Homo sapiens: one gene and its partners. The protein of the gene in region 2 purifies or fractionates together with the protein of the main gene of each other region. This does not show direct contact. Each region holds a gene or a part of one and is shown on either strand. Other genes may lie near its edges.

Region 1 (3,752 bases), on a different chromosome or scaffold from region 2:
TGGAATCAAAAAACATTGAGAAATATTAAGTATTTCCTTACCTGTTTCTTTAAATTTTCAACCATCTTCTGAACTGCAGCATTTTCTTGTTTTACAGTTTCCGTTTTTTGCCTAAAAGGAATGATGAAAATAAAATTTAATGGTTAGGCTTTAAAAGCTGAAGTAAAAGAATTTTAGTCTTTGCAAAAATGTCTTAGGAAAATGTAAGTATACGTCTTACCACATTTCTTCCTGAGATCCATTTAATGTCCCTAATTTCAGGTTAGAAATGCTATCTTCTTCATTTAAAGTAGTAATTTCATTTCTCAAAATAGAATTTTCCTGTTGAAGCTTTTCAGATTCATATCTGAAGCACAGAGATTGAAAAAAATTGTTACAAGGCAGTCATCTGGCATCTTTGGAAAATATTTTCTAGTAACTTCCAAAAGGATGAGTATTCAATGCCAGTTAAAAAGAAAAGTCTAAATTAGTAGTCTCTTAGTATTTGGAAATCGAGTTATGACATATTGACACATTTCTTTTGGGAAGTAAGAATTTCACTAAAAGATGTTAGAGAAGTGTAGCTAAAAAACCCTTAAGCCTGGAGAAATGAATCAAGACTCAATGCTCATTCTGGTTGTTGATTTTTCTCAATGGCAAGCATACTGCTTTGAGCAAATGTCTTCATTTATCTCAGTCTCAAGTCCTACCTGTTCTGAATACACATAAGCCATGTTACAAAGCTATATTAGCTTAGTTTTAGGCCCCTGGGTACCTAGGGAAAGAAAATTCTCTATTGAAATCAAAGGGCCACAATGAAATATGTACACTGTTTACTTTGTGATTTTATTCATCTCATTATATTCTGATTTTTAGGACTAAAAATGGTCTGAAGAAGAGGAAAAACTACATTCAGAATTAAATTATTTCAGAGACATTTCAGACGTCCTGTAATAGTTTACAAGTTTTTTTTTTTTTTGAAAAACCAAATTTGCTAGAAGACTATGCAATTATATTTTACAATGTCAAGTGGGCAGTGGTTCAAATTAATTCTACTTGTATCTCTGCTTTTCAAGCATATTTATTAGAATCTGGAGGCTCCTCAAATTATATGTTCTAAGATAAATTTCCACTGTTTGTTTTGTCTCTTTTTTTTTTTTTTTTTTTTTTTTTTTTTTAAAAGAGACAGGGTCTCACTCTGTCACCCAGTCTGGAGTACAATGGCATGATCATGGCTCACTGCAGCTTTGACCTCTCAAGCTCAAGCAACCCTCCCACCTCGGCCTCCCAAGTAGCTGGGACCACAGGTGTGCACCACCACGCCCAGCAAACATTTTTTTATTTTTCTGTAGAGGCAGTCTTGCTATGTTCCCTAGGCTTGCCTGGAAACTCCTGGCCTCAAGAAATCCTCTTGCCTTGGCCTCCCAAACAGTTGAGATTGCAGGCATTTAAGCCATGGTGCCTGACCATTTGCACTGTTTATGGGTTATCAGCATGTGCTTCAAGTGATATGAGTACAAAACTATAAAGACAGAACATTTTTTCTATATTAGCATAAGAAGTGAGTTCTTATCTACTAAGTTAATAATACACAAAAAATCATTCATTTGTATATAACATGTTTCCTCAAAATGAGGAAAGTAACACTTAGCAAAATAAAAAAAAAAAATCCCCTATCCATCTAAATGAAATAAGTGCTAGAAAAAAGTTAAAGAGGTACATTGAGGATGCACATGGTTAAACAGCAAACACTCGCCATTGTGAACTTTCACACCCCATATGAACACTTGTTTGCTACAGCGGAAGGGAATGCCTCCTAAACAAGGTTATTTTATTTGTTAATACGGCACAGAAGCAGAAGGAAGTCTAGAGAGTACTGCTCTCTTCGTGAAGACTACTAGGTTAGTTTCTCTAGGCACGGCAAGCAGTGGAAGTTAGATCTGGTGAGGTGCTCTGTGGGATTCGTGACGTCTAGAAGGTACATACATTACCTCAGAAGTTCAACTTTTTGCTGCATCTCACTGCACGTGATCTGCAAGTCATGCATCATTGCCTTCAGCTCTTCCTCCTTTTCTCCGTGAGAAAGTACATCTTTTTGCTTAACTAAAATAGTGACTCTCTCCTTCAACTTCCTAGTCAGCTCCTGTAACTTTGTTTTCTCCAGTTCTAACTCTGCTATGGTGGCCTGATGCTGAAAATGTTTGTCTTGAAAGCCTAGGAGAGTAGTGTTTTCCTCCAGTATAACTTGATTCTGTACTCTTGGCCTTTCTTGATGTGTCTGAATTGTTCCATGTAACCAGGCAATTTCATGTGCTTTTACTTTTTCCAAGAGCTGTGTGTTCCCCTCAAGGTACTGGTTTTCTTGCTTACATTCCTCTATGACATGATGTACACTCCTAACCCTGGGCACACACTCTTCCAGTGTCTGATTGAGCTGGAGTATATTTCCATCAGGTTCGATTTCCAGGTTCTCTAAACTGGCTTCCCATAAGCAGCAGTCACACCGCTGGACCACGCTTTCCTGAAGCTTCTCAATCTTGCCTTGAAGTCTCAAAACCAGAACATTCAGCCCCTCATTTTCTATTTTGACCTCATCGTAACTCTTTTCCAGGCTGAGGAATGTTTCAGTGACTTCCTCCATTTTCTTCAGCTCATCCTGCAACCTGAAAACCTCTGCAGTGAGTTCTTTGTTATTTTCTAGTGCCTCATCGTAGCGTGTCTCCATCATTCTCAGCTCTTCCTGAAGGCAGTCATTTTCTCGGCTCACATCTTCATACAACAGCTTATATTTGGGAGAAGCCTCAGGGATTCTCTCAAGCATCTTCAGTTTCTTTTTTAGCACAGAAACATCAAAAAGTAGGTCCTGTTTCTTTTCAGAAGCTCGATCACAGTCCGCACATAACATCATTAGCTGTTCCTGAAGCTGACTAATCTGATTCTTCAGCTCCCAGGATTCAGTCCTGGTCTCTTCACTGTTTTCAAGCTCAGAAAAACCCTCTACTGAAGCTTCAGACTCCTCTATTTTGACTTCCTGTCTCTGAACAGAGCTCGTCCCTGTACTTCCCAGGTCCCGGACCTCATCATCTTCCAGGTCACTTAGGACATGCCGCCTGGTCACACCTTCTACTTGCTTCGTTCGGTTTTGCTGTAAAAACTGCTCTGTTTGTTCCGCAGTATTTCCAAAAAACTCAGTAGCTGGCTCATCCAAACAAGAAGACATTACTAACCCTGGCTCTAACTTTTGTAGCCTCTGTTGCAATCTAGAAATTTCAGTAGCCATTTTCACATTTTCCTTCACTGCCTGTTCATGAGCTCTCTGCAGGCTTAAGAGGACGTCCCCATTTTCTTCCAACAGCTGCTCCCCTTGCTGAAGCAGGGACAGGGCTCCATCTCCTTCCACCTCCTCCTCTCCTATCACCTGGCAACCACTCTGAAGCATTGAGAGAGGAGATGTTGCCTGCTGCATTTCCTTTATTTTACTCTGAAGTCTGGAGATTTCTGTGCTCATCTCGGCTCTTTCTCGATCTGCTGTCTCACAGGTCGCTTTGTGAATGTTCTCCATGGCTAGAAGCTTGGACATCATTTCCTGCCTTTCCTGGTCATGTTCCATTTCTAGTCTTTCCAGCCGCTGGCTGGCCAGCTGCTCCGAAGCCCCTGCCTGGCACAGGACCTCCTCACGCTCCCTCAGTTCCCTTTTGTGACTGCTCTTCAGCTCAAGTATCTGGTCAGACAGCAGGCTTTGCTGGGTTTCAGATACATTTCTTAGGTCTTCC
Region 2 (3,752 bases):
TTGTCTTTTCCCTATCTTAACAGCATCATTTGATGAACAGAACTTTGTACTTTTGATGAAGTGTAACAACTTTTTATGTTTGCTGTGTTTTGTGTACTAAGAAATCATTGCGTAACCCACGGCTGTGCCAATAATCTCTTAATGTTTTCTTCTAGAAGACTCAATGGTCTTTTCCAGACTCATTGCACCCACAGGGAGTTTTCTTGTAAAAATTCACTAATGGCAACACAAATGGTAGTAATGATCATAAAAACAACAATAGTTATTATTTATTAAAATTACACAATATTCCAGTTACACTTTCAAAGACTTTACATGTACCAAACATTTAATTTCCATGATAGCAGTCTCAGGTAGATGTGATTATCCTTATGTACAAATAATGCACATAGTGTCTGTGTGCTGGACAACGCACAGGGGTAGTGAGCCTTTGGCCCAGTGTCTCACAGGGAGGAGGGCGGGGGATGGTGGGGACAACTGGTAGAGTGGGTGGCATGACCAAAGGCTTTCTCACGTGTTACATTAGCAGGGTTATTCCACAGATGCCACGGAGTAAAGACAGAATGGTACTGGTAGTCTTTATGTATTCATTAAACTAACCCACACAATAAAAACATCTACACCAAAAACAAGATCATTCAGAAAAAGTGATTTTTCCACTCTTCAAATTTGCCTCTAGAATGACTTCTGATATTCTGTAAGCAGAAGAGTGATCAGTGGGCTAGGTGCAGTGGCTCACGCCTGTAATCCTAGCACTTTGGGAGGGCAAGGTGGGTGGATCACCTGAGGTCAGGAGTTGAGACCAGCCTGGACAACATGGTGAAAACTGTCTCTACTAAAAATACAAAAATTAGCCAGGTGTGGTGGTGCATGTCTGTAATCCCAGCTACTGGGGAGGCTGAGGCAGGAGAATTGCTGGAACCTGGGAGGTGGAGGTTGCAGTGAGCCAAGACCGTGCCACTGCACTCCAGCCTGGGCAAGAGTGAGACTCTGTCTCAAAAAAACAAAAACAAAAACAAAAACAACAGTGATCAGTGAAGCCTTACGTTAAACTGTACCAGGAATTTTCCTCCTGTTGAGGAAGGAATGGATGTAGTCTAGAGGCCTTCCTATATTCTTTGTACAGCAGTCCCCTCTCACCTGAGGGGGGTACGTTTGAAGACCCGCAGTGGACACCTGAAACCACAGATAGTACGTTTTTTTCCTGTACATATATACGATACTATATACTACATTTTTTCCTGTACATACATATCTAAAGTTTAATTTATAAATTAGGCACAGTAAGAGATTACCAACAGTAACTAACAAAATAGAACAATTGTAACAATATATGTAATAAAATTATGTGAACGTATCTCTCTCCCAAAATATCTTATTGTCATGTAGATCTTAGCAACCTCAGTATATGATTTTTTTCTTTTCTTTTTTAAGTTGAGAACTTTCACCTTTTCATTTAAAAGGAAGCACTTTGTGGCTTCTCTTTGGCATATCCGAATCACCAGCATCACTACTCCTGCTCTCTGGGGCCACTGTTAAGCAAAGTGAGGACTGCTTGGGCACAGGCACTGTGATGCTGGGATAGTTGATCTGATCACCAAGACGGCTACTAAGTCACTAGCAGGGTGGGTGGCGTATACAGCGTGGATGTGCTGGACCAAGGGATGACTCACATCCCCGGCCGGCTGGAGCCGGACAGCGAGAGATTTCATCACGCTACTCAGAAGGGCACACCATTTGAGACTTAAAATTCTTTATTTCTGGAATTTTCCATTTAATATTTTTGAACTGCAGTTGACTGCAGGTAACAAACTGTGGAAAGCGAAACCATAGATACGAGCGGGCTACTGCGTTCAAAAGGCTCTTCAACTGTTGTGGATCCTCTGATGTTCTCGGAGATGGTTTAGGTGGTTACATGCCTTCCCGCACTCCTTACATTCGTAGGATTTCGCCCCACTGTGCGTTTTCTGATGTTGTGTAAGCTGATGGCCGTGACTAAAGCTCTTCCCACATTCTGTACACCCATAGGGTTTCACCCCGGTATGAATTCTCTCATGTTTCACGAGGCTCGATCCATAAATGAAAGCCTTCCCACACTCCTTACATTTATACGGGGTTTCGCCTGTGTGGATTCTCTCGTGCTGAGTGAGGTGATAGCCACAATTGAAGGCCTTCCCACATTCTGTGCACTTGTACGGCTTCTCGCCCGTATGTATCCTCTCGTGCTTAACGAGGCTCGAACCCCAGCGAAAGGCCTTCCCACACTCCTTACATTCGTGAGGCTTCTCACCGGTGTGGATCTTCTGATGCTGAGTAAGGTAATTGACTCGAGTAAAGGCCTTCCCACATTCTTGACATTCATAGGGTTTCTCACCTGTGTGAATTCTTTTATGCTGAATGAGGCTTGAACCACAAATAAAAGCCTTCCCACAGTCTTTACACTCGTAAGGCTTCTCCCCACTATGAATTCTCTTGTGCTGAATAAGTTTATACACACGGCTAAAGGTCTTCCCACAGTCTTTGCATTCGTAGTCTTTCTCCCCAGTGTGGAATCTCTGGTGCTGAGTGAGCTCATCACCACGCCGAAAGGCCTTTCCACAGTCTTTACATTCATAGGGTTTTTCACCAGTATGAATCCTCTTATGAATAACGAGGCTTGAGCCCCATCGAAAAGCCTTCCCACAGTCTTTACATTCGTAGGGCTTCTCCCCAGTATGAATTTTTTGATGTTGAGTAAGCTGATTGCCCCAACGGAAGGCCTTCTTACATTCTTTACATTCATAAGGTTTCTCACCAGTATGGATTTTCTGATGTTGACTAAGTTGATAGCCACGACTAAAGGCCTTCCCACAGTCCTTACATTCAAAGGAATTCTCCTTATGATGTCTCTGATGTGTTCTAGGAGGGGTGCCTTCTCTAGTAGCAGGTCTTTTGACATAATTGATGATCATCTGATTGACATACCTCCCTCTGGAGCGCTGTGGTCTTTCAAGCGTACCTTCACATATCCAGTTACGGCCAAGGGATTTACTTCTTCTATCTGAATTCCTTTTGGAAGCCCTTATTTCATGAATGTTTTTTTCTGTAGGTAAACTCTTATTTTCATATGCTGACTCCAAATCTGGGAAAAAAGAACATATTTTCTTTCCTTTAGAGGGACACAAGTACAAACGAACCTAACCACAAACCAAAAACTCGTCTAATAGAAATAAAAATTATCCAGTAGAATAAATGTGAATCACCCAGGGCTCTTGTTAAAATGTAGATTCTACTTCTGGTACAATACTAACTGAGAATTCATTGGAGACATCTATTTTAAAGTCAGACATGAAAAAGGTCCCGACAATTAGTCCTATTATTTCCTATTTTGAAGATGAAAACAAGTATTTGTAGATGATGTGATGATATACTTGGAAAACCAAATATAGAAGTACTGTAACAAAACAATATGCAGTTGGATGGCTGTGTGTAAAGCATTCTGAAACTGATACACGTATATGTCAGTAGTATTATTAAAAGTAACTGGTAAAGGGCCGGGAGTGGTGGCTCATCACGCCTGTAATCCCAGCACTTTGGGAGGCCAAGGCAGGCAGATCACCTGAGGTCGGGAGTCCGAGACCAGCTTGACCAACATGGAGAAACCTTGTCTCTACTAAAAATACAAAATTAGCCGGACATGGTGGCGCATGACTGTAATCCCAGCTACTCGGGAGGCTGAGGCAGGGAAATTGCTTGAACCTGGGAAGCAGAGG
Region 3 (3,752 bases), on a different chromosome or scaffold from region 2:
TTTTTTTTTTTTTTTTGAGACGGAGTCTCGCTCTGTCGCTCAGCCTGGAGTGCAGTGGCACAGTCTTGGCTCGCTGCAACCTCTGCCTCCCAGGTTCAAGCGATTCTCCCACCTCAGCCTCAGCCTCAGCCTCCTGAGTAGCTGAGACTATAGGCATGTGCCACCACGTCAGCTAATTTTTGTATTTTTAGTAGACATGGGGTTTCACCATGTTGGCCAGGTTGGTCTCGAACTCCTGACGTCAAGTGATCCACCCACCCCAGCCTCCCAAAGTGCTGGGATTACAGGCGTTAGCCATCGCACCTGGCCAATGTAAGACGGGAATCTAATGTTACCTACCTCATAAGGATATTGTGAGGAATAAATATGATATCATATACTAAATGCTTATCACAGTACCAGGGACACAGCAAAGCTCTCAAAAATGCTAACTGCTCCAGAAATACATTTGGATTTTTTAAACCACATATCCCAATTTGTAAATCCACATATCCCACAATTTGCAAAAATTGTCATTGGAGGAGATCATTCCTAGAAGAGCAGAAATTCTCATTTGGGGAAGATACATTGTAGAGTTGTTGGCTTTTATTGGCTCTGGGAGCCTGTAGTTGAAACTTATTGTTTAAACTGCCCGTGGAAGGAGGGTGGAAAACCTGGGGCTCCCCTTTCCTATTTGCTAGGCTTGTGGATGCCATAACCTGGCCTCTCCACTTGGTTAGAAGGAGGCTACAGTCAACTCAACAGAGAAGCTGTCTCTTGTCCTCATCCATGCCAGCGCGTGGTTGCAGGCCACTACCCCTCCCCACCTCCCCCAAGGCGTGACAGGAAGTGGAGCTGCCGAGCTTGGAGAGATCCCTGGAGGCACTTACAACCTTGCAGCTTCTTTATTTCACATGCTAATCAGGTGTCTCTCTGGATACCCTTCTCTGTACCTGCTCTGCCCTACACCCAGACAGAGGGAGGGTCCCTCTCCCGCAAAAAGGCACTGCCTGGAGCCAGGAGCTTCCCGGCTCCAGAAAACCTCCGGTGATAAATTATGCAGCAGCACCTCTGTGTCACTGCCTCTCAGCTAGATGGGAGGTTTGCTCCCAGTCTTTTGTTTCCGGCTCTGCTTGCCGCTCTGATCCTCAGCTGTGCATAGAGGTGAGGGGGAGCTCCCATAGGCCAAGTCAGGGCTTGCAGCAAGTCCCAGCCAGGCTATCCCCAGTTGGGTCCCAGACAGCGCCCCTCCCCTCATTCGAACCTGAATGATGGGGGAGTCCTATTCCGCATGGGGAAACAGGGTGTCAGGGAGCGCTAACAGCCAGTCCGCTCATCTGTGAGCAAGAATGGGAATGCCTACGAGCAGTGAAAGAATGAAGTCTGCTTGGATGGGCGTAAGAGGCGCCCAAGGGCACCTAGGATGTTTGCTTCTTGCTAAATCAAAAACGCACAACAGAAAATGGAGGCAGACAACCGTCAGGAAGCTAGAGAATTGGCTCTTTTTAACAGCTGCTCTTGGTTACGGTCAACTTTCCGCAGCTCCCAAAAATCACATCACTGGCACCAACTTAAAAAGAAGAAACAAAAGAGACAACAGGGGTCAAACTTTGAGGTGGAGGAACTAGGGGTTGGGGGCTATTCGGGGCTGGAGACCCACATCAATTAGGCCTGCAAGCTGACAGGCTTCCTGATTGAAAATGGTAGCTGCGAAGGCTCCACAACAGCCCAGCTCCCAAATTGGGGCAATTACTACCTTATGAGCTCTGGAGCCTGACTCCTTTCTCAGGCCAATGGGAGGGAGGGCTTGGAATTCTAAACTGTTCCAGCTACAAGAGTCCCTGGCCAGCCCCTCTCACCCCATGTCACAGGAATCTTAGCAGGAGAAGTTGCTAGGCTGCATCCCTGACCACTTAAGAAGGGAAACTCTCAGAGGAAAAGCTCCATTTCCCCAGACCTCTCTCAAGAGAACTAAGGCGACATGAGTTCCCCTAGACTGATGTTATAGCTTAGCAGACTTCTTTTCTAGGAGTGGGCACAAGTGGGAACTATGCTTCGGTTCTATCACGTTTTCAAGGGGAGAAAGAAGGGGCAGATCTTTAAAAGAGACAAGCAAAAGACCAGCTGCAATGAATGAAGGACCAAGTCTCAATTTTAGCACAGAACACGGTAGCATAATTATTTACCTGGCTCCCATGTTCTAAAGCCAAGAATCATCTCGGATCCACTTAGGTGACTTTGCTTACAGCTAACTTTTATCAAGCTCTACAGTAACACAGTAGTTGCCAAGCTCTGTGCTGCATAGTTTGAACATGCTATTATCTCAGGTAAATTTTATGATATTCCTATGTGATAATCTATTACTACTTCCCTTCCCCTACCCTACCCGCCTTTGCAGGTAACAACCCTGAGGTTCAGGGAGATTTTGCACAGGGTCACCAAGAATTGCCAGAGCCAAGATTCAAACCCAGGTCTGTGGGTGCTTCTTAATTGCTGAGCTTCGTATACAGTGATTATATTAATGCTTGACATATGTGTGTTTGCTGAATGAATGAACAAGTGAATGGGTGTGGAGCCTAGTTTGAGGAATGCTCCCGATTGTACGAGGAACTCATTCCTGCCAGCTCTAAGCTGGAGTGAGAGTGACAAGCCCATGCAGTCATCAGAACTATTTATAAGGTCAAACTCAGGCTCTGCCAGCTAACCAGTCAGCACTGAGTCTTCCCTGGGACACTGAATCCTCACAGGCTGAGGAGGGGAGGAGGGCTTCCGCTGCTGAAGATGAGATGGCAGTCCAGACACAGTCTGGGGCCCAGATGCCCCATGTCCAGGCAACTGTGACAAAACTCGTGGCTAAGCTGCATCAAGGAATGTAGAGAGACCATGGCTGGAACAGGCTAACAGACCTAGTCAACCAAGGGCACAGACTGTCTCGTAATCTTACCCAATCATAAAAAAGACAAGATTACTTCTTAAAGTAGTCCCTGAAATTCTGTTCCTATTCAGGAACCCCCAGTATTTTTTTTTTCTTTAAAGGGGCAGCAACATAAACAATTTCTCCTATTTTCCTTCTAACAGTTAAGACTGGCAGTTAATCGGTAGAAAGAGTGAGCAAAGAGCTATAAAACACCGTGTCCTCTGTGACCTCCTGTGTTCTTTGCTGGCCCAGAAGATGGACATACCCAACGTGCTCTGTATCAGACATGGCCAGACTTGGTTCCCTTGCACCTGTCATTCTTAATACCACGTGCCAGTCCAAAAGATGTTATCTGATATTCATCAGGGTACAGAAGAGGAAATCCAAAATCAGTGACAAGCCAAGTATGTTTCACAAGCCCAACAGATCAGGGACAAGGTCACTCAAGCACCATGACAACCCTGGTCACGACAACAGCGAGATGGAAAGGAGACCAGTCTCAGCTCAATTGCTCTGCACTTATTTTCAGATACAACCTTCTATCTACCCAAGCACGCCTAGGCAGAAGTTTTAACATTTCCCTTACCTGGATGAGACCTCTAGAACAAACACACTTTCCACTCTTCCAATGGTTGTCATCCATGCCCTTACTTCAAACTTCAGGATGAAAATCACTCAGGGCTATTACCAGCCATCAAGTTTCCTTCCAAAATCTTTAAGGTTGGAGAGTTATGTGGGCTGAGTCCAAACCAATAGGCTCTAGGAAAAGCCCCAAGGACTAGCAGCATCCAAATAAGCACCTTAAACTTTATTTATTTATTAAGATAGAGTCTCACTCTGTCGCCCCGGCTAGAGT

What was found.
Region 1: the proteins of ZNF331 (region 2) and NIN purify together in Homo sapiens (affinity purification with mass spectrometry; 2 studies listed by BioGRID and IntAct, with this or other methods). This does not show direct contact.
Region 3: the proteins of ZNF331 (region 2) and LRP4 purify together in Homo sapiens (affinity purification with mass spectrometry; 2 studies listed by BioGRID and IntAct, with this or other methods). This does not show direct contact.

Annotation. Positions count from the first base shown.
Region 1 is NC_000014.9:50,754,522-50,758,273, forward strand, and holds part of NIN (ninein), read right to left. Parts: coding exon 1,971-3,752; intron 347-1,970; coding exon 221-346; intron 112-220; coding exon 42-111; intron 1-41. UniProt on the Homo sapiens protein: Centrosomal protein required in the positioning and anchorage of the microtubule minus-end in epithelial cells. May also act as a centrosome maturation factor.
Region 2 is NC_000019.10:53,576,066-53,579,817, reverse strand, and holds part of ZNF331 (zinc finger protein 331), read right to left. Parts: intron 3,122-3,752; coding exon 1,866-3,121; 3' UTR 1-1,865. UniProt on the Homo sapiens protein: May be involved in transcriptional regulation. May play a role in spermatogenesis.
Region 3 is NC_000011.10:46,911,845-46,915,596, forward strand, and holds part of LRP4 (low-density lipoprotein receptor-related protein 4 precursor), read right to left. Parts: intron 1-3,752. UniProt on the Homo sapiens protein: Mediates SOST-dependent inhibition of bone formation. Functions as a specific facilitator of SOST-mediated inhibition of Wnt signaling.